Linked DNA regions of Homo sapiens. The protein of the gene in region 1 purifies or fractionates together with the protein of each later gene. This does not show direct contact. Each region holds a gene or a part of one and is shown in the gene's direction. Other genes may lie near its edges.

Region 1 (3,500 bases):
TCAAAACTGCTATTACATAGACCACTGTTTTTGTTTTTTGTTTTTTTTTTTAACAAGCTGATCATTTTTCTATGTGAAAACTCATGGGGTGATCTCAGCTCAACAGGGTCATAGTGTGAAATAGATTGGTACAGTTTGCCTTGGATTACTGCTTGTGGCCCAAGTAGTATATATAGAATAAAAGGAAACAGTTCAAGGACTCAAAAATAGTAAAAGCCAAGTATTGGTCTTCCTTGGGAGCAAGACAAAGTGTGTGCTTAGTGATAGCCTTGACCTAGAAATTATTATTTTCATAAGCAAAGCATTATGAAAGACCAGTTGCAAGACCACAGTAGTAAGTTTAAGTTCAGATTATTAGTCAAACTCACAAGACATTGTTGGCTTACCTTACTCTGATTTTACTTAGACAGGTACATAACAGGAAGCACAACAGTAGTTTCACAGAGGACTCAGTCACTCAGATGCAGCTTCTGAGGCCCCTCCACAGTCACCACAAGGGTTGAATTTTGGTCCTAAGGTTGACAAGGGGCTGACGAGAGCATGGGTCACATCACCACTGGGAAGCTGCCATGCATGTCTGAAGTCTTGCATCTTAAATACCGTGCTAGTGCTAGCCATGTAGACCTTGATAAAGCATATGAATAGTTCCCTTTTTTAGTGTGGATATAGCCCATAAAATTACAAGTTATACAATAAACAATCCTGGCACCAGGTACAGCAAGCTGAGGAACATTTATTCTTGGATTAGTGGTGAGTAATGGCAGATGCTAAAAGACCCTCATCAGCCTTCAGAGTTGTAGGGAGTTTGAGTTGAGGTCAAATCTTTCCTCAGGAAGCTAAAGCAGGTAGTCGTAGCCCAGCTGTTAACCTTTCCTTCCATCAGTAATTCAGACTGGCTATTTAACAGTCTTTCCCAGGGGCAATAGTTCTCTAGTGTCTTTCCCATCCTTTCCTGACTACTATGATCAAACATAACAGTCTTGCATGCTGAAACCACTCATACCAGTGACTACCACTAGGTATTTTCCTCAGCACTGAAGAACCAGGGCCCCACCATGATATTGCTGAGAACTTATGCTGAGAAGCTAGCATAAGAAATTTTAACTTACTTTTAATTTCCGTAGGGCTTAATTTTGGGGGCTAATTTTTCATACTTCCCTGTTTTGTTATAGAAAAATATTTCTCACCCTTGTTCAAGTATCAAAACATAAGGAAATCATATTCTCACTAAAGAACATCATGGAATATTTGGAAGTTGCAGAGATGATAAGAGGCAGTACACTTAACACAAACCACAGCTGGTTACTTGGAGAAATAAACTGCTAGTTTGCCTGGCTTTTATCCAGGCCTAGATATTCTTATATCAGCTTCCAATTGGCTACAGAAACTTTCAAACTCTTACTAAACCAATAAACTTCATACACATTTTGGGGGTTCAGCAATAAGATTTTAACATGCCACAGAAATAGCATAGTTTTAATGGCTATTTGAGGGATCATGACCTTGTTAACTTTAAAATGAGATTAGTGATTACAAACATTTTGCTTTGAAGTTATAATTAAGATTAAAACGGCCCATAAAATCAAATATTCTGGCCTTTCACAGAAGCCTATGAATTCTTTCTTTCTCTCCTGGGTATCCCATCCCCTGCCACAGATCTCAAATGGGAATTTGAAGCCTACCAGACAGTAGCCTGGCAGAGCGGTCAGCCACTGTTGACCACCTCCAGTGCTACACAGCCACATTGTCTACTCCAGGATCCTCCTCCATTGTGGCCTCTCTGTGTCCTCCAAGGCTAGAACCTGAGATATTGTGTTTCTCAAAGAGCCCAGAACACTAGAAACTGGAGCTGAAAGGCCTTTTCCTGTGGGAAAAGGGAGTGTTCCCATCCAATTCCAAGTTAGAAGTCAGTAACAGAGCCAAGAGATTTGACCCTGGGGGATGCAATAAGAATCTAAAAACACATCTAGAACAAGCCTGAAGGGGTTTGTCACCTGCTGCCAGGTGTAACTGCACATACCTGTGCCACAGCTGCACAGCTTGGTATATGGACAGGTCCAGCAGGGGAAGTCTACAAAAAAAGTATGTTAGTTCACTTTACAAAAAATAAAATTATTCAATTGTGTTGTCTATTCTGAAATCTTATTAAAATGGGGTAGAAAAGAGGAGAAAATCATCAATGAAAGTACCCAATGTCATCTACATAGGTCTCATTTACTACACACTTTCCATTTCTTCTACTGCATCTTCTTGTGACTCTTTCAGTGATAGGCAAAGTTATATATTGTGTACACTTTCTTATTTCTCTCTTTTCTATTTAAATAAATTAATATTCAATGTAAATCAGTATAGATGAGTTTAATGTCTCATTTGCTTTCAAAACAGTTCTTGTAATTTAATGTATACATATGTCAGTGCCTGATTTATTTGGCACAATGTGAAATATTATTTCACCTTATATCCTGATATAAGGGGTTGGATGCAGTGTCCCACAATCATAATCCCACCACTTTGGGAGGCCCAGATGGGCAGGATCACTTGAAGTCAGGAGTTTGAGCCAGCCTGGCCAACATGGTGAAACCCTAATCTCTACTGAAAACAAAAAACAAAAATAAGCTAGCATAAGAAATTTTAACTTTTAATTTCCATAGGGCTTAATTTTGGGGGCTAATTTTTCATACTTCCCTGTTTTCTTATAGAAAAATATTTCTCACGCTTGTTCAAGTATCAAAGCATAAGGAAGTCATATTCTCACTAAAGAACATCATGGAATATTAATATAATTCTATCCTGTGAACTAGGAGCAACTTTCCTAGCCAAAAACAAAAAAATAAAAAATGAAAAAAATTCTGCTAATAAACGCAATATAAAACCACAGTCACATTTATATTTGTAACCTAGCTGACAATTGGCTGTTTCTGAGTTTTCACAATTCTCGTACATTTTTATTTAATGCATATTAAGTAGGACAAATATTTGGGGCACTGTGTGTAGTAATTTGCAGTGAAGCTTAGCATTTGTATTATAGTTGTGTCTGTGTTTATTTGGGGGAGGGATCAGCTAAGTCCACAGTCTATTGAAACTAAGAAGATTTTTAAAAAAAAATAAATAAATGAGCCTAGTCATACATAGCAAGCCCACAAATATGATCAGAATCAAAGAGAGAGAAGAGAGAAAAAGATTCTCTAGAATCCTGTGATTGCCTTTAGTAATAAAACTGTTTTGAGAAAGAATGAAAAAGAAAAATAATATGCAGACACTGTCATGGGAGGTTTAGACTGTTCAAAGGGAACCTTGGTCACTGGACTAAGGACTCTTACCCCATGCCTAAGATTAGATTTTTTTGAGTGAATACATTTACATGTGAATCATAAAGATAAGGCAATAAATATATGATATAATTAAATTTTAAAATGATTTTAGAGATTTTAAACTAAACATTAAGAACCATTTTAAAATTGAGGCGAAAGCTTTGTTAAAAATTGGTATCATTTTGAAAC
Region 2 (3,999 bases), on another chromosome or scaffold:
GCGACTTAACAAGACTCCGTCTCAATAATAATAATAATAACAACAACAATCACTTAAAAATAAAATTAGATAATGTATTAAAATGAGACGTGAGGAGCTAGTGATTTAAGTAAGCTCAGTATGTGTTAACTTTGATAATATTCACATGTAGTCCATTAATTGAGCAATTATACTATGGGGCTGGGCACCGTATAGCTGCTGGAGATATACCCTGTCATCATGTCATCAATGGGAAAAACCGACAAGTAACTGATTATTGCCACACGATGTGACAGATGCTACGACAGAAATAAGAACAGGGTGCTCCGGGAACAACAGGGGAGGCACCTGTGTGACAGCCCTGACTGGAAAGTTGTCAGCAGCTGTCAGGGAAGGCTTCATGGAGGAAGTGACTACTGTGGAGTTTGAAGGTGCAGTAGGAGTAAGCTGGGTGGACAGAGGAACCACCCTGAGCAAGGAGGTAGAGATCTGAGAAGGCATGCTCATTGAAGAAAATAGAGAGCAGTTCTGACAAAATGAAGCTATAAAGGCCTGTAGATGCCAGATCACAAAGGGCATTAGCTTGTTTTGTGAAAGAATTTATGCTCTTTTCTGAGAGAATGGGGAGGCATTGTTGGACGTGTGCCCTCTCAGAGATAAAATTTAAGTGGAGAGCACTGAGTTAAGAAAATATCTCGATATCATGAAATTAACACAGGTTTGGAGCCCCCACAGATCCTCAATCCTGGTTAAGTTCCATGTATGACCTAATCAACTCCACCTCTCTTTCGTGGACAATCAGCAATGACATCTACCTCTCAGGATTATTGCGAGGGCTAAATGAGATAGTGCAGGTCAAGTTCGCTGCAAAGTGTGTGTCACATAATGAACATTTTAAGTAAATATCAACTCTTTTCGATGAAGCACTGTGTAAGTAGAATACGAAAGCTATTGCCAGGCCTCTCCCTCCTCCCTCCCTTCCTTTTCCTCTCTCAGCAGTGCAGGCAGCAGCAGCCAAAAGCCAGGGACGTGGAGGATGTCCACTGAAGCGAGTACTCCAGAGCGATGATTAAAAGGCAGCCGCCCCGAATCCCGGGCGCGGGCGGGGAGCGAGGCTGGGCATGCTCAGTGGGCCGGAGACGGGAGGGAAGCGGGGAGGGGGCGGGGGCGGGGGCGGGGGTTGGGGGGGGTGGGTCGGAGCCGCGCGAAGGCGCATGCTCAGTCTCCGCATCTGCTCCTTCATCCAGTGCCGCAGCCGGAAAACCGCAGCGGCGGCGGCGGCGGCTGAGGGGGAACGATCCAGCGAGCTGCAGAAAGGGGGGCAGGAAAAAATTACAAGGACATTACTGATAAGACAGGAACTGAGAGCTTGGGATTCGCGGCCTCTCCCCGGCCACCACCTTCGCCGTCAGCAAGGGAGGAAGACCCGGGAGACGGCAGCGGCGACGGCGGCAGGGGAAGGAGGAGACGGCGACGGGAGGGAGCACAGAGGAGGGGACGGGCCGGCGGCGGCCTGTGAGCCGCAGTGATTTTGACGTTTTCCGCTGCTGCGTCTCCGGCGGGCAGGGGCCGGGCTGCGCTGGGTGGGCCAGCTCGCCCCGCGCTTCCCCCTCGTCCTGCTCGTCCCTCCGCCCACCCGGGGCCTGAGGGGTCTCCCCGCTCCGAGGGAAGGGGAGAGGGAGGCGAGGGCGTGCGGGCATCGCGATGGCGGGGACATTTTCCACAACGTGATTGTTGAAGGCTCCCCCCATCCCCCCTCCCTTAAAATTCCGGGCCCTTCCAGCCTCCACCCTCCCCCAAGCCCGTGTGACTAAACCGAGACAAAGGGGAGGCGGCCTCGCTCACACGCGGGCTCGCGGGGCGGGTGGCTCGGAGGGGCGCGGGCACGGGGCGGACCTCGCGCGGACGGACGGACGGAGACGGCGCCGCCACATTCCTATGCCCGGGAGCGGCGGCGGCGGCGGCGGCGGCTCCCGCGGGAGGCGGCAGGCGCGCGGCGCGGACAGCTGAGCTTCTCCTCCGTCGGCGCCCGGGCGGACATCGCCCGGGCCCCGATGGTTTGAGCTTGCTTCTCCCTCCCTCCCGACCCCCGTGGTGGCGAGGCCACGCCATGTGAAGGTTAGGGCCGGGACATCCCGAGGAGCCGCGGTGAAAGATGGGGGATGCTGCAGACCCCAGGGAGATGAGAAAGACGTTCATTGTTCCAGCCATCAAGCCTTTTGACCACTATGATTTCTCCAGGGCCAAAATCGCCTGCAATCTGGCCTGGCTGGTGGCCAAAGCCTTTGGGACAGGTTAGTGGTGTCACCCTTTCCCTCCCCTCTTCCTCCTGATGTGGTCCACATCTCGGTTTTTGTTCCCGATTCTCGAATCCCTCCCTCCCCGTGCCTGTCTTCTCGTACAGGTTAAGGGAGATGATGGGAGGCTAGGAAGAGAAAGAAAGGAGAAATAAGGAAAGCAGGTTTGGTCTTCAATGAAGGGCACGTGAATGGTCAGGTGGGATTTGGCCAGATTCCTTTTATTGGATGGCAAAATGTCCCCCCCATCCCCCAGTGAGCAATTTTATGTTTTTACATAGAGTGGTTTTGATTTGTGGTATTTTCTTCATTGTGTTGCGTACATTTCTGCCTCAGTCATAATTGTGATTACACCACCAAGAAATCTGAGTTGGTTTCTTTATTATTGCAAGAAGGTGGATGGTGCATAGTACTATATTGATTTTGACATTTGTAATGATGGCTGCTATTCAGGCTCCGTTGGATGTAAGGTGGCCTGTGTCGAGTGCAGTATTAATTTTTGTTGTCATTCTTTAAGGCTGTATCAGCCTTCTGCACGCATGTTAAGTTCTTATTAAATCAGTTATTTAAAACCAGCGTTCAGTTTGCTGACTGTAGGGTGCAGTTTTCATTTCATATTATCAGTGAGGCATATTCTTTTTTCCAAATGTATTTTGGCTTCATAAATTAAAAGAAACAAAAACTCCCTACTTTGGGAAGTTTTTTAATAGATGAGTTTTTCGAAGGCGTGTGCTGTTGACACAGAAATTGTATAGTACAGTAGCAGTTAAACACTCCCTCCATAACCCAGTCTTTGCAAAATAACAGGAAAAGGGCCTCCCGTTATGATTCTTTAGTGTTGCTTTAGGAGCCCATGTTGTGAAATGTTAAAAAAATTAGAGAGCTGCTTTTCATTGGAAGATGCTTCTGTAATTTGGTAACTTTTAAGAGTAATTTTACAAGATTTCTGTTCCCTAGTTAATGAAGTTTAGATATATGAAATATTTGTTGAAAAGTTCCCTAGTACTCACAAATTTCCACATGTTAAATATAGGGTTTTTCAGGGGGAGGGTGACTAATTTCCAATTTTAGGACTATGTAATGTTTTGGTAAATGGTTTAGTTCAGTTTTACTGCTTAAACTTACACAGCTGAGTATTTTCAGGACTTACACATCCTACTTAAATAGCAGATTAATCTCAGTGTTTGGAAAATGATTTGAATTTGTTTTTGGGGAAACTTGACATTGATGTGATTTTATGTTTATGGCAGCCTTAATTTTACTTGAATTTTTATGCTTTGATATTAAGCTGGCATCAGGAATAAATATAGTAAATCCTTTTCAAATTATTTAAATTTTAAACATCTCTTTGAAATTGAATGTCTAGCGTAACTCATAGGAAGAAACACAAAGTGTTACTGCCTTTATATAAAAACATTCTGGCACCACTGATATAAGCAGTGAGAATAATAGATGTATTTTGGTTTTAACTTAAGCAGCACACTGAAGCCGGTATCTATTTGGATGGCAAATCAAGGCTATTTAAGTGCTTAGAAAACATGGAAAGAGGGAAATTTACATAGTCACCTATGTGGAAAAGTAGTATGTATAAAGTGGAAGGCAAAGGGAATAAGAGAAATATTTTCTTTCCATCTGGAACTGAGAGGATACTTATAGGATACAGATATCAAAATTTTGCCATGCATACACAAAAGCTTCCAGCTAGAAAATGGCCTACTTTCTG
Region 3 (3,445 bases), on another chromosome or scaffold:
TTTGTGAATGAAGCTATATGTCTAATCAAAAATGATTATAAAAGAGGCTCATCTCTGACATCATTCCAAAAATACATTCATTGATCTCTTTTTAAGAAACATCTGTTATTCACTGGGCATTGGGACTTTTTGTGAGTAATTTGAATTGAAATTTTATGAGCTATCCAAGAATTCTGTATGGTCTATTATTTTCAAGTCAAAATTTCCAGTAAGGATTTACTTTACATTTCATTTGGATAAATGAATCATTATATAGGTATGTCTTTGCTTCCATTTTGAGACATTTAGATTTTTACAGCCTGTTTCTATAGCATTTGATGTTACAACTCTAAGCGTAGTTCAAAGACATTTAAATTGACAAGTTACCAGTTAAAGAATTTAGAATATATTAGATCCCATCTAGTATTATATATTTTTTCTAGTTGATCATTGAGCAGTAAATACCAAATACTCGATTAGAAGGTAATTTTTACATTGTTTTGAAAGGGTGAAACAATTTATCTCCTCTGGTATTATTCTTAAACCACAGATAGGGATAGTAGGGTAGTGAAACGAATAAATACCTGGTAGAAGACAAGAGACTTGGGCTCTACACCTGGCTCTGCCACTGATTTGCTAAGTCATATTGGCAATCACCACACCCTTCAGGGAATTAGTTTCATCTGTAAAATGCAGCGGTTAGTACTATAAAATCATACAAATTTCTTTGTGCTTTGAGAATCTATAAAGGAATGTCTGTTGATATTCTGAGTCGATTTTCATTTGCTTTTGTTCCAGAACGGTTAAAATAAAGCATATTATTTCATTTAAAAAGTAAAGTGGCTCTTACTCATTTACATTTAGGGAACGATGGTGACGTGGTTTGGCTATGTCCCCAGCCAGATCTCATCTTGAATTGTAGTTCCCATAATCCCGACGTGTTGTGGGAAGGACCCAGTGGGAGGTAATTGAATCGTGGGGGCGGTTACCCTCATGCGGTTCTCGTGATACTGAGTTCTTATGAGACCTGATGATTTTATAAGGAGCTTTTCCCTGCTTCACTCTCATTCTTCTCTCCTGCTGCCCTGTGAAAAGTTGCCTTCCGCCATGATTGTAAGTTTCTTGAGGCCTCCTCAGTCATGCAGAACTGTGAGTCAATTAAACCTCTTTCCTTTATAAATTACCCAGTCTTGGGTATGACTTTATTAGCAGCATGAGAACAGACTGACACAGATGGTATATGTGCATAATAACTTGGAAAGCTAGATATTTATTTTCGCAATGCTACAATTAAAACATTTTGAGGACTTTTAAAATTACCTTTAGGGCCAGGCGCGGTGGCTCACGCCTGTAATCCCAGCACTTTGGGAGGCCGAGGCGGGCGGATCACGAGGTCAGGAGATCGAGACCATCCTGGTTAACACGGTGAAACCCCGTCTCTACTAAAAATACAAAAAATTAGCCAGGCGTGGTGGCGGGCGCCTGTAGTCCCAGCTACTCAGGAGGCTGAGGCAGGAGAATGGCGTGAACCCGGGAGGTGGAGCTTGCAGTGAGCCGAGATTGCGCCACTGCACTCCAGCCTGGGCGACAGAGCGGGACTCCGTCTCAAAAAAAAAAAAAAAAAGAAATTACCTTTAGAATTGGTAAACTACATGAGAAAATTAAGCATATTATTCATATCTTAGTGTTATTACCCAACTTCATCTCCAATACTTTCCCCTTTCCCTAGCTAGATATGTTTTTGTTTGTTTGTTTTAGACAGTCTTGCTCTGTCGCTCAGGCTGGAGTGCAAAGGCACGATCTTGGCTCACTGCAACCTCTGCCTCGCAGGTTAAAGCGATTCTCATGTCTCAGCCTCCTGCGTAGCTGGGATTACAGGTGTACACCACTGCACCCAGCTAATTTTTTTTTTTTTTTTTTTTTAAGTATCGACAGGGTTTCACCATGTTGGCCAGGCTGGTCTCAAACTCCTGACCTCAAGTGATCTGCCCACCTCGGCCTCCCAAAGTGTTGGGATTACAGGCGTGAGCCACCATGCCTGGCCTAGATATTTTTTATTCTTTCCAAAATTTAATTCTCCCTGAAGTTAAAAATTTTCATTACTGAGAATGTACATAGAGATGTGTCACAACCCTTTAGTAATTCCAAAAGGTGTTTCAAAAATTTTATACAATGATAATCACTGTTGAAACAGGTGTATATTCTCCTCAGATCATGACTGACCAAGATGATATTCCAAGAAGTAAACTACTGGCCTTTATAGAGTAGGATGTAGGCCATTTTCATTACTGATAACATACTTTTAAAAGAAATGTTTACAGATTTAAATAAGTTAAAACATCTAAATGCTTTTAAAAGAGCACCTGGCACATTGCAAGTTATTCATTATTAATTAGTAGATGAATCATATATCTGGAGTGCACCCTTGCTCTATATGAAAGCTTCCCTAACTATAGATATATAGGTGATAGACTGACAATAAAGATTTGAGGAAAGAAAAATTATTTGGCTGGCTTATTTTTTAAGCTTTTGAGATGTATAAGGTAGAGATTGTTTATCAAATAATTTATGTGACACATTCAATGCATATGAAATAATTATCTAATACTGAATTTATTCAAGGACTGAAAGTATATAGAGCACACAGGCTGCAAACCAGGAAAACTACCAGTTAGAGACAGGGCTTTATTCTTGGAATAAAGGTACAATGTAAAGAGTAGATGTTTCATGACTTGATTAAATTATTTAAAACTGTCTAGAATTGTGTTATAAAACTATTACTATGTTTCTATGCACTTAGTTATTACATGGGTTTAAATTTGGCACTGTTTCTAAGTTTCTATAAGGCTTTGTTGTTAAGATCTTTCTATTCAAAACATTAATTTTAACAAAAAGCTTTTCCCCGTTATTTTTCTGCAACTGGACTTTTTTGTATTACTTTCCTATATTAAAACGCATTTAAAATATTTAATTCTTTAGGGCTGCTTACAAAATTTCATGAAATCAAAGCACCTGTTGTCAAATCACTTGAAAGGCTGGTTATCATGGTCATCTCTAAGTGATGGCATTCTTTTGTATTTGATTACCACACAATTATTCTCGCATATGCTCTTTTAAACGCTGATTTCTCAATGAGTTACACAAGAATTTAACCTTTATGAATTCTTGGTGGTTTATTATCTATTTCCATAGGTAAATGCAGTTAATCTTTTGTAAATAGATAGTATTGATGATAATCAAAAAAAATTTTAAGACCAGATCAAGCAATGAATGTAAGAAAGCTAAAACCTTAACGTAAAATAACTGCAGAGCTATGAAAAATACAATAAAGAACATCAGGAAATAGAAATTTGGAAAAGTGACCAAGGCTTATGATCCTCTAGCCTTAAACAATTTTCATGTCTCAAAAAAAAAAAAAAAGAATTTTGTTTCTTAAGTTTCATTTGATAGAACCATTAGCTGCCTG

What was found. Proteins that work in one complex are often made in the same cells at the same time.
Region 2: the proteins of SNAP91 (region 1) and CAMSAP2 purify together in Homo sapiens (affinity purification with mass spectrometry; one large-scale study listed by BioGRID and IntAct). This does not show direct contact.
Region 3: the proteins of SNAP91 (region 1) and BRIP1 purify together in Homo sapiens (affinity purification with mass spectrometry; one large-scale study listed by BioGRID and IntAct). This does not show direct contact.

What each region holds. Positions count from the first base shown.
Region 1 is NC_000006.12:83,587,102-83,590,601, reverse strand, and holds part of SNAP91 (clathrin coat assembly protein AP180), read left to right. Parts: intron 1-3,500. UniProt on the Homo sapiens protein: Adaptins are components of the adapter complexes which link clathrin to receptors in coated vesicles. Clathrin-associated protein complexes are believed to interact with the cytoplasmic tails of membrane proteins, leading to their selection and concentration.
Region 2 is NC_000001.11:200,737,694-200,741,692, forward strand, and holds the start of CAMSAP2 (calmodulin-regulated spectrin-associated protein 2), read left to right. Parts: upstream 1-1,199; 5' UTR 1,200-2,134; coding exon 2,135-2,273; intron 2,274-3,999. UniProt on the Homo sapiens protein: Key microtubule-organizing protein that specifically binds the minus-end of non-centrosomal microtubules and regulates their dynamics and organization.
Region 3 is NC_000017.11:61,678,639-61,682,083, reverse strand, and holds the end of BRIP1 (Fanconi anemia group J protein), read left to right. Parts: 3' UTR 1-2,945; downstream 2,946-3,445. UniProt on the Homo sapiens protein: DNA-dependent ATPase and 5'-3' DNA helicase required for the maintenance of chromosomal stability. Acts late in the Fanconi anemia pathway, after FANCD2 ubiquitination.